Homo sapiens: one gene and its partners. The protein of the gene in region 3 interacts with the protein of the main gene of each other region in a pairwise test. Each region holds a gene or a part of one and is shown on either strand. Other genes may lie near its edges. The genes, in order: POMC, RINT1, ESRRG and ADCY4.

Evidence for each region.
Region 1: the proteins of ESRRG (region 3) and POMC interact in binary tests that used the Homo sapiens proteins (3 or more experiments, as listed by UniProt).
Region 2: the proteins of ESRRG (region 3) and RINT1 interact in binary tests that used the Homo sapiens proteins (3 or more experiments, as listed by UniProt).
Region 4: the proteins of ESRRG (region 3) and ADCY4 interact in binary tests that used the Homo sapiens proteins (3 or more experiments, as listed by UniProt).

Annotation. Positions count from the first base shown.
Region 1 is NC_000002.12:25,159,779-25,166,439, forward strand, and holds the end of POMC (pro-opiomelanocortin preproprotein), read right to left. Parts: intron 5,908-6,661; exon of another isoform or gene 5,858-5,907; intron 5,045-5,857; exon of another isoform or gene 5,015-5,044; 5' UTR 4,995-5,014; coding exon 4,863-4,994; intron 1,975-4,862; coding exon 1,303-1,974; 3' UTR 1,082-1,302; downstream 1-1,081.
Region 2 is NC_000007.14:105,541,460-105,549,899, reverse strand, and holds part of RINT1 (RAD50-interacting protein 1), read right to left. Parts: intron 8,174-8,440; exon of another isoform or gene 8,045-8,173; intron 7,493-8,044; coding exon 7,251-7,492; intron 2,991-7,250; coding exon 2,817-2,990; intron 2,717-2,816; coding exon 2,567-2,716; intron 1,352-2,566; exon of another isoform or gene 1,347-1,351; coding exon 1,190-1,346; intron 1,072-1,189; exon of another isoform or gene 933-1,071; intron 1-932. UniProt on the Homo sapiens protein: Involved in regulation of membrane traffic between the Golgi and the endoplasmic reticulum (ER); the function is proposed to depend on its association in the NRZ complex which is believed to play a role in SNARE assembly at the ER.
Region 3 is NC_000001.11:216,502,543-216,510,982, forward strand, and holds the end of ESRRG (estrogen-related receptor gamma), read right to left. Parts: intron 4,642-8,440; coding exon 4,397-4,641; 3' UTR 709-4,396; downstream 1-708. UniProt on the Homo sapiens protein: Orphan receptor that acts as a transcription activator in the absence of bound ligand. Binds specifically to an estrogen response element and activates reporter genes controlled by estrogen response elements.
Region 4 is NC_000014.9:24,324,939-24,333,378, forward strand, and holds part of ADCY4 (adenylate cyclase type 4), read right to left. Parts: intron 8,051-8,440; coding exon 7,853-8,050; intron 7,746-7,852; coding exon 7,584-7,745; intron 7,000-7,583; coding exon 6,850-6,999; intron 6,419-6,849; coding exon 6,270-6,418; intron 6,192-6,269; coding exon 6,080-6,191; intron 5,358-6,079; coding exon 5,230-5,357; intron 5,081-5,229; coding exon 4,922-5,080; intron 4,596-4,921; coding exon 4,463-4,595; intron 4,297-4,462; coding exon 4,123-4,296; intron 1,405-4,122; coding exon 1,361-1,404; intron 1,228-1,360; coding exon 1,141-1,227; intron 950-1,140; coding exon 880-949; intron 537-879; coding exon 439-536; intron 1-438. UniProt on the Homo sapiens protein: Catalyzes the formation of the signaling molecule cAMP in response to G-protein signaling.

The DNA of each region.
Region 1 (6,661 bases), on a different chromosome or scaffold from region 3:
GACCTGTGAGGAGACCAACGAGTGTGAGGCAGCGCCTTCATCCGGGGAAACTTGGGAAGCAGGGTTTGGTAAGGAGAGAGTGCCCGTCTACAAGGGCCCTGCCCACCATGCTTAGTAGTTTGGAATTGACAGAAATTGGGGTGGGGGCACTGTTTTGACTCTTGAGCCTGGGACTGTGGGAAAAAGCAAGATTTTGTGTAAACTAACGTGAAGAATTCGTATATGATGGGCTGGGGAGAGCAGCTGGAAACTAGGAGACCAGTTGGTTGGGAAGCTGTTATCAGAGAGGCCTGGGGGAAGTACTAAGGATGAGAAGGGCTGGAGCTGAAACACGCGGGGAGGGAGGAGCCTGGGCACGGCAGGAGGGGTCAGAGGGCCTGAGTCAGGGCTTAAGCCCTAGGGGCTGGAAGAAGCAACTGCGTAGAGTATGTTGTATTAAACAGATGTGTGTCTCCATGAGTGTGTGTGTGTGAGAGAGACCGTATGTCTGAGCGTATCTGTGAGTAGCCTGGGAGTGAAATTGGAACTGATACTAACCCTCAGCTCTCACACTTAGCTTCTATGATAAAAAGAAGATTATGTCCATTTTCTCCTTTAATCTTCACAATAACCCTCATACTGGGAAGGGAGGGGTAGATGAAAGAACTAAATTTTGGAGAAGTTCAGAGACTTGCCTAAGGTCCCATGGATTGCTACGAGCAGTTCCCCGGAGACATTACCAAGACTTCTCACCTGACAGTCCAGAGCACTCCCAGGCGTGGGTAGGCCTCAACCTGTCCAACTGGCTTTTGGAGGTGGACCGGAGCCGGGGAGCCCCTGAGCGCCCGGGGTCACTCTTGCAGGAATCCTGCCTTTACACGTGTGCTAGCTGAGCAGTCTCCCACTCAGTGGAGTGTGTGGAAAATACGGCCATCCTAGAGGTGCTGGAGCCACCCTGTGCCTTCACCCAAACTATCTGATCCCTCGAAGATCCATTTGGGGGTGGGGGCAGGAAGCACATTTTCCTTTCACGCTCACTAAGTCCTGTGAAATATCCTACCGCATGGAAACCACTGTGCTCCTCCGATCCATGCTGCTGTTATTTGACGGCTACGTATTTTTACTTTATTCACACAGTTTACATTCAAAGTCAGAGGTGGATGTGAAATTTGAAAGGTTTTATTTCCTAACTACAGGCAGCTTTAAGAGGCTGATTATCTGCCACGACCCCCCAGGCTGGGAGGCGGCAGCAGGGCAGGGGAGAGCAAGGGGCTTTGGGGTCGACCTCCTGGGGGAGGGTAGCCCTGGGGCCCCGCTGTGCCCTCACTCGCCCTTCTTGTAGGCGTTCTTGATGATGGCGTTTTTGAACAGCGTCACCAGGGGCGTCTGGCTCTTCTCGGAGGTCATGAAACCGCCGTAGCGCTTGTCCTTGGGCGGGCTGCCCCAGCGGAAGTGCTCCATCCTGTAGGGGCCCTCGTCCTTCTTCTCGGCCGCCACCAGCAGGCTGTGCTCCAGGTCGGCCTGGGCCCCTGCGCCGTCATCGGCAGGGCCGTCGGGGCCATCTCCCTCCCGGAGTCGCTGGCCAGTCAGCTCCCTCTTGAACTCCAGGGGGAAGGCCTCGGCCGACTCGTCCTCGGCGCCGTTAGGGTACACCTTCACTGGGCGCCGCTTCTTGCCCACCGGCTTGCCCCAGCGGAAGTGCTCCATGGAGTAGGAGCGCTTGCCCTCGCGCGGGCCCGGCTTGGCACCATCGCTGCGGGGCTCGGGGCCGCCCTCAGGCAGCGGGCCGCAGTCTTCGCCCGCTGAGACGTCCTCGCGCTTCTGCCCTGCGCCGCTGCTGCCGCTGCTGCTGCTGTTGCGGCGGCCGAATCGGTCCCAGCGGAAGTGGCCCATGACGTACTTCCGGGGGTTCTCGGTCAGAGGCTGCTCGTCGCCATTTCCCGGGAACATGGGAGTCTCGGCCGAGAGGTCGGGCTTGCAGGCCCGGATGCACTCCTGGGGGAAGACGCGAGGGCATGAGGGCAGCCCGTGCCCCGCACCCCGGCCCGGCTGCCGCGCCCGTCACTGCGCCTAGGCCCTGGCCGCCCTCGCCACGTGCCGAGGACACAGGGCACAGTGTCGGGCGTGTCAAGCGTCGAGGCCTCCCTACAGAGCAGGTCTGCCCACCTGCTTTCTTGGCACTCGTGGGCATCTAAGATCTTGCCACTGCCTCTTTTGTCCCATCCCCTTCATGCTTCTGCCTGGCAACTGCAACACACTTCCCATCCCATTCCATGGTTTGTCTAGCCATCTAGCCACCCCTAGCTTTTGTGAACAGGACCAAAGTCTTACTGTTATATGCCTGACATAAAGGAGTGGCTCCAAGAAAGGCAGACGGGTGGTAGTTGTTGGCACTTAATGAATATTGAGGGCCGGGCACGGTGGCTCACACCTATAATCCCAGCACTTTGGGAGGCCAAGGCAGGCAGATCACATGAGGTCAGGAGTTCAAGACCAGCCTGGCCAACTATGGTGAAATACCATCTCTAGTATAAATAAATAAATAAGCTGGGTGTGGTGGCGGGCGCCTGTAATCCCAGCTACTCTGGAGCCTGAGGCAGGAGAACCGCTTGAACCTGGGAGGTAGAGGTTGCAGTGAGCCAAGATCACACCACTGCACTCCACACTCCAGCCAGGGCAACAGAGCAAGACTCCGTCTCAAAAAAATAAATAAATAAATAAAAAGAATATTGAATAAATACATATGGTTTAATTCAAGTCCAGGAGGGGAGTGGGGCTGAAATTTGGGGGATAATCTCTCCAGGTGATAGAAGTCTGGCTACTAGGGCCCATATTTTTAAACATATTTTTAATAATGCCTCAACCTGTGTGAACCTGGGAGGTGGAGCTTGCAGTGAGGGGAGATCGCGCCACTGCACTCCAGCCTGGGTGATAGAGCGAGACTCCGTCTCAAAAAAATAAATAAATAAACAAAAAATAAAAAATAATGCCTCAACCTTACCTCAGTGATGAAAAACCTACTTTATGCCCTACCCCAGCTCCATCTCTGCACTAAGCCTCCAAAACTGCACCTTGGTTCTTTCACGACTTCTGAGCTGATTTCTGAGAGATCCCCCAGTGAGCTCTGGGGCAAGCTTATTTCCCTGTAATCTCATTCTGACTGGAGGGAGGGGTGGAAAGCTAGCGTTATTTCCATTGCACCGTCTGTGGAACCTGTGTCTCTGCTCCTTGTCCCTAGAGGACTCTATTGTGGTACATATTAGCTTAGGAAAATGGCTGCATAGGCTGCAGCCTTGAGTTTTCAGTGATAAAAAGATGAAAAGCTCACTGGCTGCTCTCTTTCTTGGGAATAGCAAAGGAGAAAATAAAAGGATCCTACCCACTCTGTTGAGCTGGACATTGCCTACTCCAGGTGTTCAGAATTACAACTCTGTGGAACGTTAACAATGGAAAAAACTAATTTACACTCCCCTCCCGTGGACAGATAGTGAAACAGGAGACTCAGAGAGGTGATAGGACCTGGTCAAGGTCCCACACCTCAAAACTGGGTCTAGAACCCATGGGTCCTGACTGTGTCCAGTGCACCCTCCCTGGTGAGCTGTGCTGTGGGTGTCTCAAGTCAAGAGACTCTTGGGTCTTTCCAAACTGGAACTCACAGAATCCCCTGGGCTCTTTGTTTCTATTTTATATTACACATGAAAACTGGTCTGTGTCTTTGAGGACCTCATTCTATCTTCACCTTAACTCAGCTTCTGCATTGACAAAATACACAGAATGTAGTTATGTACATTCCACCCTCAGCACCTGCCAGGTGATGGCAACAAGATTAAAATTCCGGTCACTGACACTAACAGTATGGGGGTTTGTTTGTTTGTTTGTTTCATTTTGTTTTGTTTTGAGACAAGGTCTCATTCTGTTACCCAGACTGGAGTGCAATGGTGTGATCATAGCTTACTGTGTCGTCAGACTCCTGGCCTCAAGTGAACCTCCCAAGTAGCTAGGACTACAGGCACATGCCACCACATCTGGCTAACTTTTTTATTTTTTGTAGAAGTGGAGGTCTCACTATGTTGCCCAGGCTTGTCTTGAATCCCTGGGCTCAAGCAATCCTCCCACCTTAGCATCTAAAAGTGCTGGGATTACAGCCATGAGCCATCTCGCCTGGTCTCAGTGTGCCTTTTAATCTCTGGATTTGGCATCATTACTCATTTATGCCCCCCAACACACACACACACACACCCCCCACAGGCAGATACATACACCCTGTGGTGACCTGGAGGGAGCTCCTGCCTGATGCAAAGGGCCTTCACATGCTCTGGAAAGACTGTAGAGGAACACAGCAGAAGGCCAGTCCTCCAGAATAAACATGAGACATTTGGCACCAATTAAAGAAAAAAAAAAAAGGGCCCCTGGTTTTTCCTTCTTCCAGAGATGATTTGAAGAACTACCTGGCTGGTTTTGCAACCGGTAGTAGATAAAAGGGTAAGAAATATGGAATGAAAATGGCAAGTGATATGAGCTTCTTAAAAAGGAATAGTTTGGGAAGCTAAAGATTTAAAGTACAGAATAGATTGAGGGGTCCATTATTGCTCTTATAGCACCATCTCTAGCTTAAAGGGTTCAAGGTCTCCATAAAAGATGGGGCAAGAAGTAAGGATAACCAAGCAGAAATTGTGGACTCAACCCCTCTCCCTGAAGCTGCTTCCTTCCCTGATTTCTTCTCCCATTTCTTACTTCACTGCAAAGTTTTGCTCCTGCCCTGGATTGAATCACGCCTATCACTGGGAATGAATTTCCCTTTCCCCACACCCTTTTCTTTTGAGCTTTCCCAGCTCCAGTCCCATCTAATGTCTAAGCCAAGATGGCAGTCATGGCCCACGTACCAGCAGGTTGCTTTCCGTGGTGAGGTCCTGACACTGGCTGCTCTCCAGGCACCAGCCACGCACTTCCATGGAGGCCTGAAGCAGCAAGGCCAGCAACAGGGCCCCCGAGCGGCTGCAGCACGATCTCGGCATCTTCCAGGCAGGCTGAGGCTCTGCAGAAGCAAACAAGATTGGTGGGACCCCTGCAAGGAGCAAAACAATGTTGGCCACTCACCAGGAAGGACCTTGAGCCAACATTAACAACACACTCTCTTGTGGAGTTAAAGGCATTTTAAGGACAGCAGCAATGCTGAGAAAGGAGGTGTGCAGTACAGCGGTGGTATAAGTTGTGATAAGGAGGAGGGAATGGTGGGTAAACTGTGACCATTTCCCTGTTATCTTCTATTTAAACGAGACCCCTAAAAAGGTTAAGGCTGGAAGCTATTTTGGGGATTGCTTGGTTCAGCCCTTCCCATGAGAGATGGGAAAATTGAAGCCCAAAGAGAGACAATTACTTTAATGTCCATGACAAGGTAAGGCTAAGCTCCTAACAGAGAACTTTCCTATTTCACTACATTAAGCTGTAGTTCTAACATGCAAGATCTCAGGAGTGAAAGTAACTTGGGAAAAACGGAGGACCCTGAAACTCCTGCTCAAGATGGTCTTTTCCCTTTTTATTCCACCAGGATCCTATCATTCCTCTGAAACTCTATTTCCTATGAATATTAGGTTGACAGAAAAGCAAATAAAACCACTGGCCAATTTAGGCAGCATTTCGAGCAGCCTGATTTGATGTCCTGCACACAAATTACTCTGGTGATCACTATTACCCAGACTCCAGTAACTTTGGAGAGCTTCGTTTTTAAAGCAGATCTCAGTTCTTTGAAATCTGGCTCATCTTCTGGACACGTCACGTGTCAGATGTCTTGTTCTCTAGAGCTCTCAAATGTGGTCTGAAATGGCAGGATTTGAAGAGGATGCAGATGTGGAGGGGAAAGAGACCAGAAGGGAATTACCTCCTGGTGGAACAGCCACTGCAGATACTTTTGGAGAATCCAGCAAGTGCCTGTGGGCAGAAGCTGAGGTCAAGACACCAGGGGACAGTAAGGAGGGGGCATCCATGGTGCCCCTAGCCCCCTGTACCCACCCCTCTCTCCAGCACTACCCTCGCACTGCCAAATTTCCCTTAACCAGGTGGGCCCCCTGAAGCCACCTCGAGGCCGGAGATCAGCTCACCGCCAACCCTACAATCATTTTGGATTTCAGAAGATCTTCTCAGCCAGCTGCTAGAAAGAAATGTAATTAGATGAGAAAAGTAATTCACATTAAAGCGTGGATGACTAAGTGTCTTGTCACTCCTAATGAACGCTGGCATTTTAAAATAAGTTTGCCTAAAATAAATCTCTCATTTGGGGAGGCGTGGGCCAAATCTTTTTTATATAGGGGAGGCTTTGGAAGTGAAAGTCCTCTGAAGCGCTGATTTCTACTTCAGGAGGCCACTTCCTTCTCTCTACCCCACCCTCGCCCTATTCCCCAGGCGCTGGGCCTGCACGGTGCTAGCTTCTGAAGGGTTGCCGGGCAAGGCTGAGCATTTTCAGAGCAGCCATTAGATGGCACTGGCAGCCAGTGACTGGCCCAGGTGCGCTTCGGCTAAAGGGGCAACTGAACGAGCTTTGGTCAACCTTGGTGTCCTCTCCTGGCTCCAAGGGACAGGCTGTTCCCATTGTACCCTGCCAGTGATCTATTCAAGTACACAGCCAGAACTTGGTGGACCAGGCAATTAGATTAAAGCTCCAAGTTGACCATAGCACATTTAGCTC
Region 2 (8,440 bases), on a different chromosome or scaffold from region 3:
CCTGCAAGGCTTAATAATCAAATGTTTGCTAATGTACTCCCAACAAATTTCAATAATATGACTTAAGTCAATAAACTCATAAATTTACAATGCCATATATATTTAAAACCTAGCACTTCAATAATATGTAAAATGATGAGTATTACAAAGAACTGATGGCCTATATTTTTTGAAATAGCATTTGAAAATAATTTTAATATTATTTTCTTATGGTTTTTATTTTCAAAAAGTAAATCAAGAAAAAAATTGCTGGCCAGGCGTGGCAGCTCATGCCTGTAATCCCAGCACTTTGGGAGGCCGAGGTGGGTGGATCAGCTGAGGTCAGAAGTTCAAGACCAGACTGGTCAACATGGTGAAACCCCGTCTCACCTAAATATACAAAAATTAGCTGGGCGTGGTGGTGGGCACCTGTAATCCCAGCTACTCAAGAGGCTGAGGCAGGAGAATCGCTTGAACGCGGGAGGCAGAGGTTGCAGTGAGCCGAGATCACACCATTGCGCTCCAGCCTGGGCAACAAGAGTGAAACTTCGTTCCAAAAAAAAAAAATTGCTAGTCTGCATTACAAAAACTACGCATGTCTTATACAGGTTTAAGAGCAGAAATACCAAGTACATGCCAGGCGCAGTGGCTCACTCCTGTAATCCCAGCACTTTGGGAGGCTAAGTCAGGTGGATCACCTGAGGTCAGGAGTTCCAGACCAGCCTGACCAATATGGTGAAACCCATCTCTACTAAAATTACAAAAATTAGTCCAGTGTGGTGACATGTGCCTGTAGTCCCAGCTACTTGGGAGGCTGAGGCAGGAGAATCGCTTGAACCTGGGAGGTGGAGGTTGCAGTGAGCAGAGATTGTGCCACTGCACTCCAGCCTGGGTGACAGAGCGAGACTCCAACTCACAAAAAAAAAAAAAGAAAAGAAATACCAAGTGCTTACTATTTGCTTTGCTTTGTTTTGCAATGATAACTCAGCAATATCTGATGCCCAAGAGCGGAAATACCATTTTTCCTACAGTATATGAACACAAGTCCTCAATTATATGTATGAACAGCAGTAACAAAACAGGAATGTAGCCCTTTAGAAAAAAAACAGAAATGTGAAGAGAGTCAGATTTTAACTTAAACCAGCAAAGGTATAGAAACTCTAACATTTGTTACCAATAAAAACCAAGGACAAGAGCTGGCAAAACACACCTTGCTTAACACATTAGTCTGCCGGTTCCCTCTGAAGTGATACCTGAACCTCTTCTGAAGAGGAGTCAGCATAACCTGGATGGGCAGGATGACAGAAGGGGAGGCAGGAAGAGAGTATTTTTCTGGGAGTTGCTTTGGCTCAGTAAGTAATTCATCTCTGACATAATCAAGTCAAGGAAAAAGAATCAAAAGCATACCTAATATACACACACATATGTATGTATACACACACAATAAATTTTTCCAACAAATGTATCAGATACTCAGTAGAGTTAATTATGATGCAAATAATATGTAACCTAATTTTATATTGAATAAACATACAGTTAATTCTTTATATTGAATATACATTCAGTTAAAATGCACAAAAAGCCAGGCATGATGATAGTGAATCATGCCTGTAATCCCAGCACTTTGGGAGGCTGAAGCAGGCTAATCACTTGGGCCACTTCACAGGAATTTGAGACGTGCCTAGGCAATACGGCAAAACCCTATCTCTACAAAAAACAACAAAAATTAGCGGGGCATGGTGGCACGTGCCTGTAGTCCCAGCTACACAGGAAGAAGAGGTGGGAGAATCAACTGAGCCTGGGTGGTCAAGGCTGCAGTGAGCCATGACTGCACCACTGCACTTCAGCCTGGGTGACAAAGTGAGACCATGTCTTTAAAAAAAGCACAAAAATGAGCCAGGTGCAGTGGCTCTCACCTGTAATCCCAGCACTTTGGGAAGCTGAGGCGGGTGGATCACCTGAGGTCAGGAGTTCGAGGCCAGCCTGACCAACATGGAAAAACCCCGTCTCTACTAAAAATACAAAATTAGCTGGGCATAGTGGTGCACGCCTGTAATCCCAGCTACTCGGGAGGCTGAGGCAGGAGAATCGCTTGAACCCGGGAGGTGGAGGCTGTGGTGAGCCGAGATCATGAGATCACGCCACTTCATTCCAGCCTGGGCAACAAGAGCGAAACTCCATCTCAAAAAAAAAAAAAAAAAAGCACAAAAATGGTATTAGAATTAATCTATAAATCTTTCCTAAAATAGTAACAAAAAAAATTCAAGTATCATTTGATTAAATTCACGCTATGACACTAAAGGTTTCCTCCCAATTGCCCATTTGTTCTGTTGCCCCAAGAGACCTTTTTGTGCTATGAACTTGGATCAGTCATGTATCCCGGAACTCTTCCTTACAGCCCTCACACCTACAAGCAATTCACTTTGCAAGAGTACAGTCCACCACTCAGTGGACATTTACAGACCAAGTCCAAACACAGGATTCTTATTTGGCTTTCTTGGCCACTTTGAAAAAGTTTTACTCTCTAGCCACAAACCCATTCTAGAAAAAAGAAATTTTAGTAAGTTTTCAGCTGCAACAAAGATACGAGGTTTGTAGTTTCAAAAGCTGACAAAACAGTGTCTCCAGGTAACTGTATATCTCCGGGGCACTGGCAGGTCGACTTAAGCCAACAGTTTGTGATTGAGGGGGTGCGATGAATGGCCAATGAAGCTGTGCTAAAATTTCCTCAAAATCACTGCAATGGAAAAGTAACACATACATTTCAGTACATCACCAAATGATCACCAAATACCCATCGGAAAGCAATTACCACAAAATATGGGTAAATTCCCTACCTTGTAAGCTTGTCCTTGAGAATTTTATGCCAGAATTTAACTGTGGCTCTCATGAAACCAAGAAGATGAGTACAAGATGATTCCTGAAGTTTAATGTCAAGTTCTGCCATAGACACTAGAGTGGAGGCTGCCTCCGGTACATTATTGGTCATCAGATATTGCTGAATGTTATCACTGTAAACAAAGTAAAGCAAATTTTTTTTTCTTTTGAGACAGAGTCTCACTCTGTTGCCCAGGTTGGAGTGCAGTGGCATGATTTGGCTCAATGCAAATTCTGTGTCCCAGGTTCAAGTGATTCTCCCGCCTCAGCCTCCACAGTAGCTGGGATTACAGGCATGCGCCCCCATGCCTGGCTAAATTTTTTGTATTTTTAGTAGAGACAGGGTTTCACCATGTTGGCCAAGCTGGTCTTGAACTCCTGACCTCAAGTGATCCGACCGCCTCGGCCTCCCAAAGTGCTGGGATTAGAGGCGTGAGTCACCGTGCCCAGCCGAAAGCAAATTTAAAGAACGGATTGCTCAGAATAATTTCAAATTCGGAAAAAGTGCTTCTTCTTCATGTTTTATATAAAGTTACATCCAAGGAAGAATGAAGCACCACCCTGAGGTAGCCTTTGTTTTTTAACAAAGCACCACCCTGAGGCCTTTTACCAAGGCCTCTCTGGGAGCCTAGAGTCCTCTACTTCTGCATTCTTCTAAGAGCAGCAGCCTGCAGCCTATGTTCAAGACCTCTCCCGGGACCTTTCCCTTCCTACTCCTCCTGACAGACCTGTTTTGTGTCATATTCCTTTGGGCACCACTCATTTCTGATAAATCTGCCTTTTACAAAGTCTTCAGTATCTTAATCCAAGGGAATAATGTGGTAGTATCTGGTAAAGTCAAGTATGATGGTCTTCAATTGTTACATACTTTGCCCAGCTGAACTTGATTTCCCACTTCAAAGAAATATAATTCCAGGCGGGGCTTGGTGGCTCAACCCTGTAATCCCAGCACTTTGGGAGGCCAACATGGGTGGATCTCCGGAGGTCAGGAGTTTGAGACCAGCCTGGCCAACTTGGTGAAACGCCCCCCGCCCCCCCTTCCCCATCCCCCATCTCTACTAAAAATATAAAAACTAGCCAGGCATGGTGGTGGGCACCTGTAATCCCAGCTACTCGGGAGGCTGAGGCAGGAGAACTGCTTGAACCCGGGAGGCGGAGGTTGCAGTGAGCCAAGATCATGCCACTGCACTCTAGCCTGGCAACAGAGTGAGACTCCGTCTCAAAGAAAAAGAGGCCAGGCGTGGTGGCCTCTTTGGGAGGCCAACATGGGTGGATCACCGGAGGTCAGGAGTTCGAGACCAGCCTGGCCAACTTGGTGAAACCCTTCCCGTCTCTACTAAAAATATAAAAACTAGCCAGGCGTGGTCATGGGCACCTGTAATCCCAGCTACTCAGGAGGCTGAGGCAGGAGAATTGCTTGAACCCAGAAGACAGAGGTTGCAGTGAGCTGACAGGGTGCCGCTGCACTCCAGCCTCAGCAACAGAGTAAGACTCCATCTCAAAAAAAAAAAAATATATATATATATATACAAATATTACAGAAGAATTTCAAATGTACAAACAGAATATGAGTACTGCCTTTTTTTTTTTTTTAAAAGAGTCTCACTCTGTCACCTAGGCTGCAGTGCAGTGGTACAATCACGGCTCATTGCAATCTTAACCTCTCGGGGCTCAAGCGATCCTCCTACCTCAGCCTCCCGAGTAGCTGGGACTATGGGTGCTCACCACCAAGCCTGGCTGATTTTTTTTTTTTTAAACAGAGATGGGGTTTTGCCATGTTGCCCAGACTGGTCACAGAATTCAGAGCTCAAGCGATCTGCCCACCTCAGCCTCTCAAAGTGCTAGGACTACGGCATGAGCCACCATGCCCGGCAGGAGTACTGCTTTTAAGGAAGGAATGAAATAGATTTCCTCACAACACTAAAGTATGAATGACATTTACAACATAGGAAAAGCTAGAGAAACAAGGTTCACTCAGAGTGATAGTGCTATACTATAGTATCCAAGAAACAGAGCTAATGTAAGGATGCTAATTCTAGCAAGAAGAAACTACTTGAAAAAAAGACAATGTACATCAGAATAAAAATAGGCCATTATAAAAAAATTTAGAGATGAAGAAAATCCCAGAAGCTCTAAAGGAAAGCTGGAAATGGAGAGATTATCATAAAAGACCTCAGGGAAATAACACATTATTAAAGACAGAAAAATAACTGTGCTCTACCTGCTTATGAATTTGATCCCTATTTCTAATATAAATCCCTCGGCATATTTCCCTTATAAACAATTCAGATATCTGAAGAGTTTATCAAGGCCAGGTGCAGTGGCTCACACCTGTAATCCCAGCACTTTGGGAGGCCAAGGCAGGCAGATGACTTGAGGTCAGGAGTTCAAGACCAGCCTAGCCAACATAGTGAAACCCTATCTCTACTAAAAATACAAAAATTAGCTGGGCGTGGTGGCATACACCTGTAGTCCTAGCTACTCGGGAGGCCAAGGCAGGAGAATCGCTTGAACCCGGGAGGTGGAGGTTGCAGTGAGCTGAGATTGTGCCACTGCACTCCAGCCTGGGCAACAGAGGAAGATTCCAACTCAAAAAAAAATAAAAAGAAAATTAAAATAAATAAAATAAATGTTAAAAAAAAGAAGAAAAAAGAAAAGTTTATCAATAACCATGGACCTAATTTAGTTAATCTATTACTTTGGCTACTACAAGAGTGAGGTTTTCAAATAACGTATTTTACTTAATAAAGTTATTAACATTGCCCCTTACTGATATTTCCTTTCTGAGGGACAAGGAGAAATGCAGTAAAATAAAGCAAGGTTTAAAATTCCTTCACTGCAAATAATTTATCTAAACAAGAATGAGATGTTCTAAACCACTTTATATGTAAAACTCCTCATACATGCAAAACAAAGTTTTTTTGTTTTTTTTGTTTTTTTTTTGAGACGGAGTTTCGCTCTTGCTGCCTAGGCTGCAGTGCAATGGCACAACCTCAGCTCACTGCAACCTCTGCCTCCCGAGTCCAAGCAATTCCCCTGCCTCAGCCTCCCAAGTAGCTGGGATTACAGGCACGCGCCACCATGCCTGGCTAATTTCTTTTTTTTTTTTGTATTTTTAGTAGAGACGGGGTTTCACCATGTTGGTCAGGCTGGTCTCAAACTCCTGACCTCGTGATCTGCCCGCCTCGGCCTCCCAAAGTGCTGGGATTACAGGTGTGAGCCACTGCACCTGGCCTAAAAACAAAGATTTCTATATTATATTGATATGTAAAATTCTTTAAAATTTTGGGAAATATATGCAAGAAAAAGAAATACATAAAACATATCCATAACAAAAGTAATATCAGGTTTATTAACTATGATACATTTGAAACAGGACATTAAGACTCCCAGAAGACTTTTCTCCCTCAGGTTTTCCAGGCAAAATTAATGGTTGCTGACAGCTCTGCAGCAAGTACTAGTTAAAACAATGCAAGGATAGTGGGGACCTTATCATCTACTAATCTAGGTGGAAATGTTACTTTGGGTTGTCTGAAAGGCAAAGCTAGATACAATTAACTACCAGTGATAGGTATTCAACTCAAAAAGAACTAAGGTCAAGCCTTACTTCCTTTTTTGTTTTTCCTACCCAGAGGTAGCAGAACTCTTGTTATTCATCCAAGAATACTGTGTAGCTCTTATGATTCCCACTGAAAAATATTCAAATTATACAAAAGCAATCCATTTCATTAACTGACCAGTTCTAAAAATTAAATAAGAATAACTATTACCAAACTTTGTGTTTTATTAATTTGGCATTACAAAGAATAGTTTTTATCATGTGTTCATAATCCAACTGTAAGACTTAAAAGTTTGGCCGGACGCGGTAGCTCATGCCTGTAATCCCAGCACTTCCAGCGGCCGAGGCTGGCGGACAGTGAGGTCAAGAGATCGAGACCATCCTGGCTAACATGGTGAAACCCCGTCTCTACTAAAAATACCAAAAAAAAAAATTAGCCAGGCATGGTGGCGGGCGCCTGTAGTCCCAGCTACTCGGGAGGCTGAGGCAGGAGAATGGCATGAACCCGGGAGGTGTAGCTTGCAGTGAGCCGAGATGGCACCACTGCACTCCAGCTGGGCGACAGAGCGAGACTCCATCTCAAAAAAAAAAAACTTAAAAGTTTAACGTACTTACATTACCTTCTTTCAAATGCTAATTAAGCTCCCTGAAAAGCTTATGTTCACTCACAATAAAGGAAAAGAATCATTATCATAATGCTATTTTCACAACAACTGGTAAAATTATATTATTATAATCTTTAATTAACTCAATTATTTAATGGCACACATGTACTCTCTAAGACAGAAGCCTCAAAGGAAAATAGTAATTGTGAGAACAAAGAGGCCCATTTTACCTTAGTTCTTCAATTTGTGAAATCCATTTAAGGTAAGCAAGATGACGTTCGATCTCTTCAATCTGGCTAATCATGGTTCCAAGATCGTCCATCCAAGGTTGCGCAGTCAGCAAATGGCTGTTAATGGCGCTGAAGAGATGAGTTTCCTGCTCCAGAAACTGATTAAGAAATTGCTTTGATTCTTCTGCATTTTTTAAGGCACTTCGAATTCTTTTAGGAATTTCTGATGAAATTGTAAGTACCTGACCATAATTTTAAAAAAGAAAGAAAGAAAGAACAGCAGCAATCAGATAAAATTTTCATAATTTTTTTTTTGAGAGGGGATCTCACGCTGTTGCCCAGGCTGGAGTGCAGTGGTACCATCATAGCTCACTGCAGCCTGGACTTCCTGGGCTCAACCAATCCTCCCACCTCAACCTCCCCAGTAGTTGGGACTACACATATGCACCACTACACCTGGCTTTTCTTTTTTTTTTTTCTTTAAATAGAAATAAGGTCTCACTATGTTGCCCAGGCTGTATGTAACCTTTTTTATTAGTTCGTTCCCTTCAAAATACACATTTTTTGTAACAGAACTGAAAATCATCCATCAAAACCTTCAAAAAAAGGTTTGATTTCTTCATCCTGTACTAATCAATCCAAACATAACATGCTGTTTTATATACACACAAATAGCAGGAAGAAGTATGCCTTTGTGTTGAAAACAATAAGTGAAACAAAAAAATAAAAATAAAATAAAAAATATATGCATACATACATATACACATACATGTAGAGAAAGGGACTTAACTCACTGGCTCCAGTAAGCATCTAGAGGTCTGCCTCCATAGGCTCAGCAGAGGATCCAGCTAGAGAAAACTTATTTTATTTTTTTGAGACAGAGTTTCGTTCTGTCACCCAGGCTGGAGTGCAGTGGCGTGATCTCAGCTCACTGCAACCTCCACCTCCCGGGGTCAAGTGATTCTCCTGCCTCAGCCTCCTAAATAGCAGGAATTATAGACACGTGCCATCACGCTCGGCTAATTTTTGTATTTTTAGTAGAGACGGGGTTTCACCACGTTGGTCAGGCTGATCTCGAACTCCTGACCTCATGATCCGCCCACCCCAGCCTCCCAGAGTGCTGGGATTACAGGCATAAGCCACCGTGCCAGGCCGAGAAAACTTATTAATACATGCTCTACCTGCTAAAT
Region 3 (8,440 bases):
GAGAAGCCAAGAAAGCACATATTAGCACTTCGGTGATGGCTCCAGGAGGGTCCAGTGGAAGCTACAACTTGACCCTGAGCAGCAAGGGCTGTAACCTCTCTGAGTGTAAAAGGCAAGAGGAGGCCATTTGCTGTCAGCAGTGCTGTTTAACCCTCTTGAATTCGAAGACAGCTCCCCCTCCTAATTCACACGGATCTCTAAGCTCTGCTTGTTGACTTCTCATTCAGGAAATCTGGTCAGCAGCTCTACTGCTGCTCCACATAGCCTGCAGCTTGCCAAAGAGCTCGGAGCAAGCGCATGATTTAATTGTTGATAGAGGGAAATAATGGGTATCTCTAGCAGGCTTTAATATGATCTTAAAATAGGGGGAGAGTTTTCTGTTATGACATTGACATAGAGGCGATGATTTTGAGTAATGCAGGATGATGTGGAGATGCTTTAAGATTAAATAAGAGCTATATAAAGGCTTGTCAGAATGAATTCTAATGTGCCATGAGACACTTTGCATACTCTTAAATATGCAAAATGTCTCTTGGCACCCTAGAATTCATTCTGACAAGCCTTTATATAGCACTTATTTAAACTCCGACTTTATTTTTAGGGAACAGGTACTCAGAGATACTCTTTGAATGGAAGCAACAAAGGGCAGTGTTTATCAATTTGGTTCTTTAGCGGGGGGAAAAAAAGAAACACAATACAAAAGAGCAGTCAAAAGTGGAAGCTTGTTTAATATTGCTCTACCATCATCCTGAAAGGCATAATAATTTGAGTTACACATCTGAACTGATTGGAGTTACAGAATCATATCTCCTTTTTGCATTTAACAATATATACAATATAAAATAAATACATTTACACAAATGGACATTTGCTGGAGCACACAGTATGGTACACATCACAAAAATATACAATTGATTGCTTTACAGATGTGAAGCCCATCTACAGCTATAGACATGGTTTTATTATTATTATTATTATTTTTACTACTGGCTATAATGCAACTCCTGGATTATTATAAGCAGTTTAAATTTTTTGTCCTTTTACGATCTTTGCACATAAGACTGCCATAAAATGTTTTCCTAGGCAGGTAAACAGAGACGCTTAAATAATTAAAATACAATCACCAACACCCATTTTCTCTTCTATAAGAAAAATAGCAGTTTTAAATTTTTTATATCTTTTATGTTATCATTTAAATGCAAAATAGTGGAATAAATACAACAATCTGATCTGATTGAAACACAAGTGTAACTACAAGGAGTCACACAATCATATTGCTTTAAATAAGAACGAACCTAAAAGAAGCAAAATTAAAATTAAAATCATATGGCTAAAACATACACCTTTATAACTTTCCAAAACTTCACATTAAGTAAATGGTCTTGCTTGAAACTTGAGAAGACTTCCCTCTAGTGAGGTTTAAGATGAGCATTTACCCTAAAGCCCGTGCAGTTCTTTTTAAATCCACGTTTTAGTTTTATTTCCTATTTGTGAGATACTTACTCTTTTGTAATGCTGAGAGTTACTTAAACTGAAAACTAAAAAATTGTATCTCATTCTTTGAACATATCTCCATCTCAGGTTTTCAGTTGGTTGGCTCTTACTTCTGAAGCCCAAGTACTTTAATGTGATACAGTGAAAACAATGTATATATTGTATATATTTTATTTATATATAGTGTAGTTGAATAGTAGCAACTTAAACCCTGCACAAACTTTCTGGAAAATAATCTTTTTAAACACTTACATATATAAATAATCTTATAGAATCAGCACCTTTTTTCCCAGGAGTTGTATTTTCTGTTGTTATTTTTAAAGGGATGTGCCAATTTCTGAACTCCTATCACAGCTATAAATTTCAAGTTATTGACCATCTGAATGAATTGCTAATGATGATTTATCTAGAATCACACTACAGTCACTTCTCTACTGAGAAACCACAATCTACAATATAGTCCCATATAGCTAATGATAGATACACAGTATTCCTAGCACTGGGTTGATGTTTCATCAACCCAAGGTATTTTGTTTAAAGCACACAAAGTAGCAATAGTTTTGGAAACGAATCTGCACCAAAAAGTTTTGCAACAACACAGAGCGAGTTAATAACAACATCTGAGAGATGATTGAGTGAAAGCCATATATACAGCATTTAAAAATTAGACTTATCTATATTCTTGAAATATTCAAAGTTTTATTTCTAAGCTATACATTGGTATTCTATAATAAACCATTAGAGAAATTATTCCTTGTTTTGAAAATATTATTATGATTTTGATGTGTATCTGTTCATAATGAATACTTGTTTGGAGTTTCAATCTCTTAATTATTATTAGGAAGAACCTTATTACTGGTAAGGAATAGAATATACTACTGTAGTCTCCTGAGGAATTGTACATCCAATATTGTCTCTAATTCTACCCTGTGTCTAAAAGCACACACCACAAGAATCCAAACACCACAAGAACAAGACAACAGTCTTTGAATGCAACATAAAATTCAGAAAAGCACAGCAAACATGAAACATTGAAAAGCTGAACTACATTTCTTTTGTTTGTTAGGATTACAATTTTAATTACATCTGTGTACATAGAATAAGACTGTTCACATAATACAGGGAGCAGCTACTAACACTGGTCCATTGGTATAGCATTTGATGGAGGTTACTGTTTATTGGTTATTCAGCGACTGTAGATTTCGGGGCATCTAATTGATTTCTTCATTAGATTACACCTCTTAACAGTCTGGAACCTGACTTGACTTTCATGCTGTGACAATACTGGTTGAAAAGCACATATATTGGCTTAGCTCTTGGTAAAAACTGCAGATTAATTTAAACGAACATTCCTAAATGAATAAACTTATATGGATTAGGTTTTAGAATTTGGTCAGGCATTTTCTGTCTTTGATGATTTTTTTTTTTAATTCTGGCATTTGCCTTATTGCCTCTTAAATGAATACTGGCTCACAGCTCCTTCTGAGGCAAGGTCTGTGACTTTGCAAACAGGCAGTATCACATTCCTAACCACCATGGCAGCTAGAAATCATATGGCAATTGTACCTCCCAAGTAGAGAGGTGCACTCCTGACAATTCTACGGATCTATATCTCATGTGCAGTGCTTATATATGTGACTACTCAGAGTCACTGTAGGTGTAATCTCATCCTTTGTGTCAGTGAACATTTAGGTAAACTGGAGCTCATGTTAAGAAATTGATGTTTGGGACCAGACTGGCACACAACATAAATTGCATCCGTGATAATATGCACCTTCCCTTCAACTATTGCTTGAGTAAGTTAAATTCCCATATTAATAAATGGCTGAAAAGTGGTAAAGCTGGTACAAAAAAATCTCCATTTGTAAGAAGAAACAAAACATTTTTAAAAATCTTCCTTCAGGATTCATTTGTCCTTCATTATTGTTCGTAATTGTTCAAAGCCAGCACAAAATTGCAGTATTCTTATTTCTCTTTAGTATTGCATGAATGAATAAAGCTTAAACTATTCCCTGAAAAAGTTACATAGTAGCTAAACTAACAAATACCTGGAAGACTTGAAAAAACAATTAAGGAATCAAATGGCTGTAACTGATCTAGATGGAAAAGCAATGATAAGAAGCAGCCGATGCAACGTTGCTTAAGTTGTCTAATTAGAGGCTGCTCCCATGAAATCTAATACTGCACTCAGTCAATTTGTATATGTTGCACTGTACTTTTAGGAACGTTGGTTCTCTCTCTTTGATTCCTTAGTCATTGGGGACAGTATGGTTCACAATAAGTTCACTGGCATCCATATTATGGATCTCCATCCTTTGGCAGGGCTGGCTTCCATCTCTCTTCAGTTAGAGACCTCTTTTAAAAGTTCAGCAGCAGAAGGAAGAAAAAGAAAGATGGAAAGAAGGTCAAGAGGAAAGGAAAGGAAAGGGAAAAGGAAAGGGAAAAAGGAAAGAAAGGGAAAGGAAAGGGGGAAGGGAGGATTTTTTTTTAAACTAAAGCTATTTCAAATTTAGAAAAAAGGGGAAGGATGAGAAAAGAGAGGAATGAGAGTAGGTAAAGAAAAGAAAGAAGGCAGGCAGACGGGAAGAAAATAAAGGAGAATGGGAACTAGGAATGAAAGAAGCAAAGAAATAAGGGAGGTGAAAGAAGAAAAGGAGAAAAAATAAAGAGAAAGAGAAATGTGGGAAGAAAGAGGAAAGAAGATGATGGAGAAAGTAGAAAGAAACTCATCAGGAACCTATGGAGGAATCTGAAAGCTGCTTCATAGTCTTGCTGCTAAATTATCAGTGCAGTCTGTTGATTTTTGATGTTGTTAACTAAACTCTAAGTTTCTTCGACATCACTCTTGGGTTTATTTTCCCTTTTTCAACATGAAGGATGGGAAGGCCCAGGGAGCTTTTAGTCAGACCTTGGCCTCCAACATTTCCAAAAAAAGTTTGTGCATTGGGACTTTGCCTTCTAGTTTGATGTTGTAGAAATGCTGCACGGCCTTGGTAGAGGTCTGCCTCAGGAGTGGCAGTGTCATCAGCATCTTGCCAGCTCGACGAGGGTCTTCCATGTGCTGGCCAGCTTCATAATCCTGCAGCGCTTCATGTAAGACATCCTGAAGCTTCTGAACGGCTTCAACATCTTCTATGTGCATGGAGTCTGTGCAATGAAGCAAAAGATATGAGTAATTATAATAATAATAGCAAACCTATGTAGACTAGAGTTATAAAATTAGTTATTAATTTAATTATTTTTGAACTTCTCTGAGCTTGAACCTATGATTTGTTCAGAGTCTTGCATTTCTACAATCTCTATTTCTTTCCAAATTTCCCTACATAATTTCTAATACTAGCTTAGAAAATGGGAATTATTAGAAAAGATCTATGATTTAAAATGTGTATTTTTCTTTCTCAGGCTGAGCAAGAGAAGGCTTTCTTTTAACAGATTACAGTCTTGACTATTTTATTCATTGTCTCATCCAGGTATATATTCATTCACTCAATAAACAACCACGGAAGGCCATCTATTGAAAGTATTATCTTAGTGCTGTGTGGGGGAAGGTTGTTTAAAATTCTGATCTTGCCTGGAAAAGCCAATATTTCCCAAACAGGGGAAAAAATTGTTGACTAAGATTCTAAGAACTCCATGTGACTACATTGAATCTAGCACTATACAGAAATCACAATAAATTATTTATCCTTTCAGGATGTTTAATGTTCTAGTATCAGTTGATTAAAGCATCCTTACAGAGTCTACTTCCCTGATGAAAAACAAATGGTGTCTTCAGATCACTGAGTTCTGAAATATTTTTCGCATTTGTAAAGGTGAACTTTGCCCTTAAATGAATAATTTGAAAATCTAATTCAATCAAGCAAAGAAAGGGTTAACAAGGTTGCCAAATTATTCTTGTGAGAAATGTGAGATGTGGGGAAAAAATAAAAGTTACAGCTCCAGCTCTAAAGCAGACACTTAATTATATACAAGTTTGAATCATTTAGCACGTTTTATTGATTCTGATGACAGTTTATCTGTTAATTACACATAATGGAGTCTTTGGGGGATTCTTCATGTTTAATAATTCTAGTTCTCTGAGAATGCTGAGCTCTAAGATATATGTAGTTAGCCTAATCTTTCATACAATTCAAACATAGATCACATGAACAAAAAGAGAGGGAATGTAATTTAAAATCAAGTGGCTAAATATATAATAAAAATGAAATATGGCAAACTAATTAAAAGATAACCAGTAGCATGTCTTAAAAATTTATTTGTATTTTGTTTAGTGTTTTTTTCACTTACATTGTCATTTTGAATCATTCCACCATATCACTGGTGAACTGACCACTATTTACATTAGGTAGTTTAATGACACCTCTTTAAAAAATTTTTGAATAATCTGGAATAAAGTTGCTTATAAGTATTTACTGCTCAAGACTCAATTTCTGCCTGGCAGAGCAAAAAGAAGGAATTTTTCCAAGTGGGAAATAGCATTGATAGTGGTTCCCTGGAGCGGGACTCAAGTCACTCCCCAACATACGCCTGGCCTTTCCCTGTGGATTGTTTCTACCCAGCTTCTCTCCAGTCTGGTTCCTCTCAGCATGGCAATCTCATCCACCTCCTATGGTGCTGTCTCTTAGAAACAAACACACATAATTTCTAAAGTTGTCTAGGGGTTGGTAATCTTAGGGACAGAAAAACATTCATAGAGATGATGGCAACATGATCTGATATTCTTTCTCTCTATTTTTGCACTTAAATGCTACCTGAAGGAAAAATGGGAGGTATGGGGAAACACTATGGTGAGTCTCTAGATACACAAAAGACTGCAATATGGACCTTGTGCATAAGGGAACAGAGATGAGTTGGATTTTCCCAACTTATCCTGGGTCTAATAATTAGCTCTCTACATGAAAACAGAGTAATAGATGGAAGGAGAAAATGGGAATTACACTCTGCAGTGACAAAACAAACGAAATAACTATTTTCCAACTAGACCAAAAACACACCAGAATAAAAATAATACATTTACCATTTATTAAGCACCTATTTCAGGTGAACATGGCCTCATTTTACCTCCCCAAGCCCTAGAAGACACGTGGCACTGGTAATATGTGTCAGACACAGGTTTAAATTCAGGATTCTTCAAATCAATAATGCTGCTAGAATGTAGAACACTAAATTTGCATTCCCTTAAAAATTGGGATGAATTGTCCTCTAAACACATCCTATTCAAACTCCTATCTTCATCAGCTGTCTTCTTTACAACATTCTTAATGAAGACATTGCCAGTTGTATGAAAAGTATGTAGAGTATTCTCCTTGATAAGAGGCAAAACTAATTATTATGAATTTCCTCTTTAAATTTTCCTAAATCTGTCTCCAAATTCTATCATTTGGTCCTGTTTCTAATTACTAGAACAATACAGGATAAATTTCCTTTTTCTACATGGCATATCTTTAAGTGCTTGAAGTCAGCTGCACAGTTACCTCGGCCCTACCCATAGTCTTGCCTTTCCCACTACTCTTGCCCAGCAGGAGATATATTATAGGATGTCATGGGAAATGAGACAAGAACAAATAGCAGAGAGATATGCTCACAAACAGCAATTAAGATTTCAAACTATTCTTTCAAGGCTGTGATTTAGCATGAGAGATTTAAAAATGATTTAATCAAATTACTATGATAATTTAACTTCCCATTTATAGAAAAGATTCTAACTCATTTTAGCTTTACCCATTCTCGGATCTGCTAATACTTTAAATGCAAACTCACTAAATTTGAACTATTTAATTAGACAATGATTCAGCTGGCAGACTGCTGAAGAAAATATTAATCTCCATTAGGGATCCTAGTTCAAGTTCTGGATCTGTGGTTTTAATCTCTGTTTTGTTCTTTTGGTTAAATTTACACGTTGACACCAGGCTCAATAGAACTGGCATTAATGTATGTAATTTATTTTGTTTTCATTGTTCATGCTGGTTTCTTTTTAACTATGCTTTAAAGGAAATATTCCTAGTATTTGTGCTAATAGGAACCAGCTAAACTTAATGGATATCATAAGTTTATGAACTAACTAGACAGGACTAGGCTACATATTAAAAACAATGGGCGAGCTCTTAAAAATCTTGGATACTGGGCCCAAGTCTAGATCTATGAAGTAAGAGACCAGAACTAGGACATCAGCATTGCTGAAAATCTAGGTAGTTCTACTGCCAAGCCAGGATTAAGAACTACTACTGAATTAGACAATAAGACAAGCAAATACTATTCTAAAAGAATAAATATTTCAAAAGATAACCAGAGTGTATATGAAACACATATTATTGCCCACATATTAAGTCTAACACCTAATAATAAAATAGAACTTTATCAAAACTTCCAATATTTTACTCTGTGAAAGAGATCCTAAAAAAATGTGTCTAGTTCAGATCATTTACTTTGGGAAGATAGCTAAATATCATCATCCTTGCAGCTGCAAATTGAATAAGACAGAGCCACTGAAAAAGAAGATTTTATTTTTATATCTTCCCTTGAATAAAATACTGCCCTTCTCTATGTTAGAAAATATTAATCATTGTGGGCCAGGTGCGGTGGCTCACGCCTGTAATCCAAGCACTTTGGGAGGCCGAGGCAGGCAGATCACGAGGTCAGGAGATCGAGACCATCCTGGCTAACACCGTGAAACCCCGTCTCTACTAAAAATACAAAAAATTAGCCGGGCGTAGTGGTGGGCGCCTGCAGTCCCAGCTACTCGGGAGGCTGAGGCATGAACCCGGGAGGCGGAGATGGCAGTGAGCTGAGATCGCGCCACTGCACTCCAGCCTGGGCGACAGAGCCAGACTCCGTCTCAAAAAAAAAAGAAGAAAACATTAATCATTGTGTGCACAGACATAGCTACTCCAAAATACCTAAGTCCTGCTTGGGAACTTTCTTCTGGACTTTTAGACCATTCTTGGCA
Region 4 (8,440 bases), on a different chromosome or scaffold from region 3:
GGTGATCCACCTGCCTCAGCCTCCCAGAGTGCTGGGATTACAGGCGTGAGCCATCACACCCGGCCACCTGGCTGAGTTAAGAACAAGTCCTCATCCCTCCTAGCAGTGGACTAGGAATGAGGGCCTACTTTCTAAGCTCATGCATTTGCTGCCAGATTTGGGTTTCTCAATGGAAACAAACTGGCCTTCATGGGGATGTTGTTAGAATCAAAAGAGATGCTCATGGGAAAATGCTAGGGCTGTGTAGAAAGTCCACAGGATCTACAAGGTTAAGATAAGGGCCGTGATTATCATTTTCCCCAGAACACATGTTTCCTCTGTGGGTAAGTGCCTGAAGCTAAGGGGAAGGGGTGAAGGAAGAAAGTGTGGCCCGGGGTCATGAGGGCAAGGTGATCCGCTTATGACAGCCAGGGCCTCCTTTGCCTGGGGCACTCTCACCTGTTTGTCACTAGCATCTGGATGATGAAGTTGGAGAGAAAAACCAGGAAGGTGCAGGCTTCATAGTATTTGAAGGCGGGGATTGCAGAGAGTCGGTACTGAAAGTGAGAGGGCCAGAGGTGGAGACAGGGTCCAGTGCTACCCATCACCTTGAAGGCATCACTCCCAGGCAAGGGGTGGGCTCCTCAGCCTCACCGCCCAGGCTCCAGTTCAGTTCCATGTAGACCCTACCAGTTCTCCAAGGAGTTACCCTCCTTCCTCCCCCTACCATCTAGTAGCTCAGTCTACAGAGTGACTTTCCTTTAGAGAGAGGCACAAGCTCCTCACCCCTAGGATCACAAACTGAGCAGACTTGGGGAGGAGACCCAAGGGCTGACCCCTCCCCAGCACCAAGGAACTAAAGTTGGGAAGTTGTTTGGTGCCACCCACACCACAGCCCACCTCTTTCTCCATCTCCTTCTCTCTGAAGTACAGTGTCAGTGGGTTGAAGTCCTTCGACTGCTTCCACTGTCTGGTGGGAGGTGGGAGGGTGGGTGAAAGCACCAGAGAACAGAGGGCACAGAAGGGCAGGAAGAGGGCAGAGTGAGGGCAAGAGGGGGTGGTCAGGCGAGTCTTCCCTCCAGCCCCTCAGGGAGCACCATCCCTTCTCCACCATATGACCTCAGGGCCTGCGGCCCCCCCAGCCCTCTTTGTTCTCCGTACTTCTGCGAGTTGAGCTGCTCAATGACCTGGAAGAACTTGGCATCCCCGGTGTCCAGTTCATCATCTAGTCCCCGGGGGGTACGGCTCCTGCACAGTGAGAGCCAAGTCCATCACCACAGAGACCCTCAGAGCGTCTGGGCAAAGCAGGAGCAGACCCCCAGGGAGGATGGAGGGGGTCATCCAGACAGCCCCACTGGCAAAGACTTTGAGGCCTCCTCACCGATCCAGGCTCCACTGGGTGCTGAAGGAAGCCAGGGTCTTCTCCTGTTGGGAGAGCACAGGGGGAGGTGGGCATGGTGGGTGTTTTCCCTGCAGTGAGGTAGACCATGAGCCACACTGCATGCTCTATACATGTCTTTGACCTTGGGCATTTCACTGGGCTCTTTCTTTTGCCTCTAATGACCTCTCTGTCTCCCAAATCCCACCTGCCCTTGAAGGGGAGGTTTGAATCTCCTTAAAGTTTCCCCCTGACTCTCTAGACTCCCAGGATCTTTGTGTGTGTGTGTGTGTGTGTGTGTGTGTGTGTGTGTGTGTGTGACTGAATCTTGCTCTGTCACCAGGCTGGAGTGCAATGGCATGATCTCGGCTCACCACAACTTCCACCTCCCAGGTTCAACCGATTTTCCTGCCTCAGCCTTCCAGGTGGCTGGGATTACAGGCATGTGCCACCACGCCCAGCTAATTTTTGCATTTTTAGTAGAGATGGGGTTTCACCATGTTGGTCAGGCTGGTCTCAAACTGCTGACCTTAGGTGATCCGCCTGCCTCGGCTTCTCAAAGTGCTGGGATTATAGGCATGAGCCACCGTACCTGGCTGGATTTTTTTTTTTTTTTTTGCAACGGAGTTTCGCTCTTGTTGCCCAGGCTGGAGTGCATTGGTGCAATCTCAGCTCACTGCAACCTCCGCCTTCCAGGTTCAAGCAATTCTCTTGCCTCAGCCTCCTGAGTAGCTGGGATTGCAGGCACGCACCACCACGCCTGGCTGATTTTTGTATTTTTAGTAGAGATGGGGTTTCGCCATGTTGGCCGGGCTGGTCTCAAACTACTGACCTCAAGCTATCCATCTGCCTCATCCTCCCAAAGTACTGGGATTACAGGTGTGAGCCACCGTGCCTGGCAAGATTTCTAATATTTGACTGAGCCCCTGGAACTTCAGGGGCTAAGTGGATTTCTGTGCTAGTGAAGGTCCTGCCTCAGGAGACACCCTTGAACAAAGGGTCCTGCTCTTCCACCCTAATACTCCCTAGCCTGCACACCAGTGGAAAGCGGCAGGAGGTCTAGCATGGGCCCCGGCAGGCATTCCTGCTATGTAATTGTACCTAACACCATCTCACAGTCCCTGGGCTTGTAGCAGTCCCCACACACCACTCCACCCATGCTGGAGGTCTCATCCTGCAACAGTCAGCTGAACCTCAGCTTCTTCCTTCCTCTTCCTCCTGCCAGCTTAACCCTCTGACCTCTCCCCTACCTCATGTTAACACTTGGAATTAAGTACTTCCTGCAACCACTGCTGCCAGTGTCCTTCCCCCACTCCCCAGTGTTGGGGGGTTGAAGAAGAGAGCATGCAGTTTCAGGAATTGAGTTAAACAGAGACATTTCCTGGTGCTATGGGTGCACAGCCCTAGAATCAGAGACAGGAGGAAGTGGGGGGTCCAACTGCCTTTGTGGTGTCAGGGGAAGGCACTCTCCTGAGTAGAGGCTGGGGAGTTATGGACATGGTGTGTGGGTGGCAAGCCACCCAGGCACCGAGGCAAGAGACAGAGGACACGAGCAGTTCCAGTATAATAAAATATAAAACAAGAATTGTTATACCAGATATAGATCTTAGATATGATTATATATGAGTATCATTAATCATTAGTGGGTAGCAATTACTTTTTATTCCAATATTATGATAATCCTCACTCAATAATCATAGCCTAGGAAAAACCAGGCCATACAGAGATAGGAGCTGAGGGGACATAGTGAGAAGTGACCAGAAGACAGGAGTGCGAGCCTTCTGTTATGCCTGGACAGGGCCACCAGAGGGCTCCTTGGTCTAGCGGTGACGCCAGCATCTGGGAAGACGCCCGTCACCAAGCGGATCATGGTCCAGCGGTAGCAAAAGGTGTCAAGAAACAACACCAGCTACTTAGCAGACCGGGAAAGCGGGGTGGGGGGGGGGGTCTCCCTTTCCCTGGGGGAGTTTAGAGAAGACTCTGCTCCTCCACCTCTTGTGGAGGCCCTGACATCAGTCAGGCTCACCCACAGTTATCCGGAGGCCTAACCGTCTCCCTGTGATGCTGTGCTTCAGTGGTCACGCTCCTAGTCCACCTTCATGTTCCATCCTGTACACCTGGCTCTGCCTTCCAGATAGCAGTAGTAAATTAGTGAAAATACTAATAGTCCCTGATATGCAGAAATAATGGTGTAAGCTGTCTTTCTCTTTGTCTCCTCTCCCTCTCTGCCTCGGCTGCCAGGCAGGGAAGGGCCCCCTGTCCAGTGGATATGTGACCCACATGACCTTACCTATCATTGGAGGTGACTCACATTCTTTACCTTGCCCCTTCTGCCTTGTATCCAATAAATAACAGCGCAGCCCGACATTCGGGGCCACTACCGGTCTCCGCGCATTGGTGGTAGTGGTCCCCCGGGCCCAGCTGCCTTTTCTCTTATCTCTTTGTCTTGTGTCTTTATTTCTACACTCTCTCGTCGTCGCACACAGGGAGAGACCCACCGACCCTGTGGGGCTGGTCCCTACAATGGTGTCTGTAGGGATCTTGTATCTTCTCTGAGGTGAGCTGGAGGGCTCTTTCTCTAGAAGGAGGGGCAAGGAAGGGCCTGAACCAGTGACTGGGGTGACAAGACAGTTCGGGACTTTGGGATGTCACAAATCATTAAGTGGCTCACTGGTGGTGGGGGCAGGGAAGGCTGCCAGTGGGGCCTGAGGATACTGGGGGTGGATTTAACTAAGCTCTGGGGCTCAGGATGAAGGTGCACATACCGGGAGAGGGGTGGAGGTGGACACAGGGCTGTCTCCGTGGCTCAGGTGGGCAAAAGGCTTGGCTGCGCCCCAGGACTCCAGGTAACGGGTCATCAGCAGTGATGGACGCATCTTGAGGCCCTCAAGCGAGGACAGCAAGCCTCCTGCAGTGCCCTTCTCATCCTCCTCCTCTGCCTGGGGCACATAAGGGCTGACAGTAAAGACCACAGACACTTCCTCCTTCTCCCTCCACCCCCCACTAGGACCCAGGAACTCAATCTCTGGCACAGAAGAGATCAGGCCTGTTGGCTGTGGGGTGGTTTGTGTAGGCCAGCCCATGGGGTCTGGGCTGGGCTTTTACCCGTGGATCGATGACCAGATAGGTAGGCTCCCCTAGCTCCCGAAGGTAGGGGTCCCGATGCTCCATGCCTGCGTCCTCCACAGCATAAGCCCCTGCCAGCAGGGCCAGGGTAGCCCCTGTGATGTGCACTCGCCTGGAAGGAGGGAGGCAGTAGGGGTCAGCAGGGAGGGCCTTCAAATCTCCTATTTCCTGCCCCATCACCCCCATGGCTCCTAGAACTGACAAACATCTCATGTCTTTTAAAGATCGTTCCTGGATGTCTGACTTCAAGAAAGAGCCTGTGTTACAGGAGGTGCCTCCCAGCTCCCCTCCCTGCACCCTAGGATCTCCCAAGCCCCATATGGGACTTATCTTAAGGTACTCATCTTGTGCTTATCTTAAGGAACTAATGAAAGGATGGCAGCCTGTGGTAGGCCTGGTTGGCCTTCTGCTGTAGCTGCCTAGGGCCCTAGGTCTCACCCTGGTACACCGCCTGCCTCCATGTGGTTAGCCAGTGTGACATCATGTGACCAAACGTCGTACTGCCACTTCTGCAGCCCGATGACTCCACACAGTACGCTGCCTGAGTGCACGCCCACACGCATGTTGATGTCCACGCCAGTGGCTGCCCGCAGTTTCCTGAGCAGTGTGTGTGTGGGACAATCTGAGTCCTACCCTCAGCCCTGCCTGTGAGACACCCCAGATTCTCACAAAGAGGACTTCTGTCAGCTGCCTGCTGCCCCCCACATCCACCCTCAGCATTCCTCTTGACCACCGCCTGAGCTGACCTGATGGCCCGGCACATGTCCAGGCCCATGCGCACGCAGTTGATGGCATGGTCTGGCAGTGAGAGTGGCAGCCCAGAGACACAGTAGTAACAGTCCCCCAGGATCTTGATCCGCATGCATTCATGCTCCTGGGAGTGTGTATGTGGGTGTGCAGAGGAACCTGGTTAGAGGTCAGAAGGGTAGGAGGGAGTTGGGAAAAGTGGGCAGCGAGCGGGGTATTCCTGAAGAACTTCCAAGGTGGGGTAGTGTCTAGATCAGATCTAGGGACTCCTTTCACTTGATATGGGGCTAACTGTCTTTCATACAGATCTCTTTCTCAGAAGAGTTTCCCCAAGGGCTGGATGGCTGTGGCTCTTTCCACTTTTGGCATGTTGAAGGGGGTACCCAGAGTTGAGTACGTGGTAGTGGTCTCAGGATTGAGAGGTTGGGGGGAATCCAAGAATTGGTTGCTTGGAGGCATCCCTGGAGTCTAAGCAGGTTGCTGGGCTGAGGTTGCATAGGGCAGAAATTTCTCTTGGAAGGGCCTCCTAAGGTTAGAATATCAGAACGTCTCTATAGATTTGGTTGTAGTGTCCAGAGACACATATGTGGGGGCTCTGAGCATGTTTGGGGCATTGTACTTGGGACATCTGTGGCGATATTGAGGGATCTCTGTAGGTTTGAGGTGTGTGGTGAGCAGCTTCATGACTGGGAATGTTTGAGAGGGTTTCCTCCTTCCACTGGAATATCTGGGGGCCTGCATGCACTGAAGTGGGCCTGGGATCTTATAAGGTGGGAGTTTCCCTTGGAAGGGGCTACCCAGGATGGGATGTTTGAGGGTCCCTGGGTGGGGAGGGAAGTCTTCTCTGACCTTGGCAATCTGGTCGAACTTGCCAAAGAGCTCATTGAGCATGAGCACCAGCTCCTTAGGGGAACACTCGCTGGCCAGCCGCGTGAAGCCCACGATGTCAGCATACAGCACGCTGCATAGGGCAGACTGTGTCAGCAGGGCCAGGGTCTTAGCCCACAGGCCCCTCCCCTCCAGCCATTCTTCCTCATACCTGACTCCCTGGTGCCTCTTGACATAGAGGCTGTGGAAATTGTTAGTGCTCTCTGGCCGTGACCCCTGTCCTGCCTGCAGCCGTGCCATGATCTCTGCCTTCATCTCTCGGGCCAGGTAGGCAGGAAGGATGGACAAGAGAAGGTGTTCCTGGAAGAGGTCACCATGAACACCAACTCTTCTGCACCCTAAAGCCAGGAGGCCCTGTCCCCCAAATCACTCAGGAGCCCACACTGCCCATCCTAGGTGCTCCCCAGGGTGCTCCCCCAGGTCCTCCCGCTGCACACAGCAGGGCCCCAGCACTCCATCCTACACTGATCACCTTTAGTGACTAAACTCCCAGTATCAACACCTGAATGGGAGTTCACTTAATATCATAATGCTCTAAAGTGCTTTTTATAAGCTTTGGTTTGTTTGAGCCTCACAACCTTCTAAGATGGGCAATACCCACATTTTATACAAAAGAGGAAACAGGTCAAGAAACCTGCCCAGAGTCACTCAACTTGTGGAGGAGCCCCGTTATGTAATCTAAGCAACTCCTCCCTCGGAGCGCTGCTCTGACCTTCCTAGGCCCGGCTGACCTGGTGCTTCTTCTCGGTGTCCAGCCGCCGGCGTGAGTGCAGGGAGCTGAGTGCCTCCCGGAACGTGGCCCGCAGGGCGCGCTCCATCAGCGCCTTGTGGTACACTCCTGCCACGTTCCCGCACAGGAACAGCACTGCGTTTGCTGCCAACTGTGGGTGAAGGCCAGCCTCAGAGGGCGCGGGACCCGGGTGCTTGTCGTGTGTAGTTGGAGTTGGTCTCAAAGACTGGCTGGGGAAGACTGGGCTTTACAGTGAGGGACCTAACTATTGTGGGACAAGTGGTGCCACACTGTGGCATCCCTAGGGACGTTTCCCTTCCCAGATGCTCCCTCCTCCAGACTCTCGGCTGCTTCACCAACACGACCTCTTAGGTCTGGAAACGTTTGCAGGTAGGTTTCTTGTGCTTGGAATACCACTCCACTGTCGCTACCCACTCCCATCGCACAAAACTTTTTTTTTTTTTTTTTCATTCTCTGTCAAGGTTTCATTAACCACATCTGTTGTCCCCGGGGTAAACCACGACACGACTCCCTTCCGTGTGGCCTGGATCCCTCTTCTGGTAACAGCAGGCATTGCATCACACTGTTGTACCAGCTCTGCGAAAGCACGGTTGGGTATCCTGCGCCCAGCGTTGCACCTTGACTTGGAGTCACAGCTCAACAACCCCCTAAAAGGAGCCTACTAGCACGTGGCAGAGCCGTCCTGAGCGCAGCCTGTGCTACTTGCGTGCTCACCTGCGGCAGCAGTGCAGGCCGTGAGTCCGGCTGTGGCCCAAGATACAGCCCGAGGACCAGCAGATGCGAGAGTGAGGAGGCGAGGCCCGCGACGGCGGCGTCCCGCATGCCCAAGGGCAGCATGGCATACGCCGTGAAGATGACGAAGAGAAAATAGGACACCTGGGGGCGGGGCGCGGGAAGCCGAAGGCCCAAGTGGGGCTATTCAAGGCCTGGTGAGGGATCGAAGCCCGGGCCGTCCCCGCTGCCCCGCCTGCCGCCCCTCTCACCTGGTCCCAGGCGCTCACCACGCCCCCGGTGAACAGGAAGGCGTGGCCTAGCGCTAGCAGCGCGACCCATACCAAGCCGGACAGGGGACGCGTCCAGCGCTGCAGTCGCTGCTCCCGGGAAGCGAGGCCCAGCAGCAGCGAGAAGCCGCCCAGCGCGCACAGCACAGTGGTCAGGAAGCTCGGGTCTGAGGTCAGCTCCTGTGGGCAGGGGTGTGTGAGGCAAGATTGTGACAGGGAGAAGGAACGAACCTGATAAAGGAAAAGCCAGCAGCCCAGCCCCTCAGCCCAGTTCTGAAAGGTGTCTCAAGCCTAAGTACGAAAAGGAGGCAAGGCACCTCCGCTTGCCATTCACTTTAGGTTGAACCATTTGAAATTGCTTGTGTCCTACTGCTTTTATCTAGACTCAGCAGTCTCGTATGGTTTTTGTTGGTTGGTTGGTTTGTTTTTTGAGACAGAGTCTTGCTCTGTCGCCCAGGCTGGAGTTCAGTGGCGCGATCTCGGCTTACTGCAACCTCTGCCTCCCGGGTTCAAGTGATTCTCATGCCTCAGCCTCCCGAGTAGCTGGGATTACAGGCTCCCGCCACCACG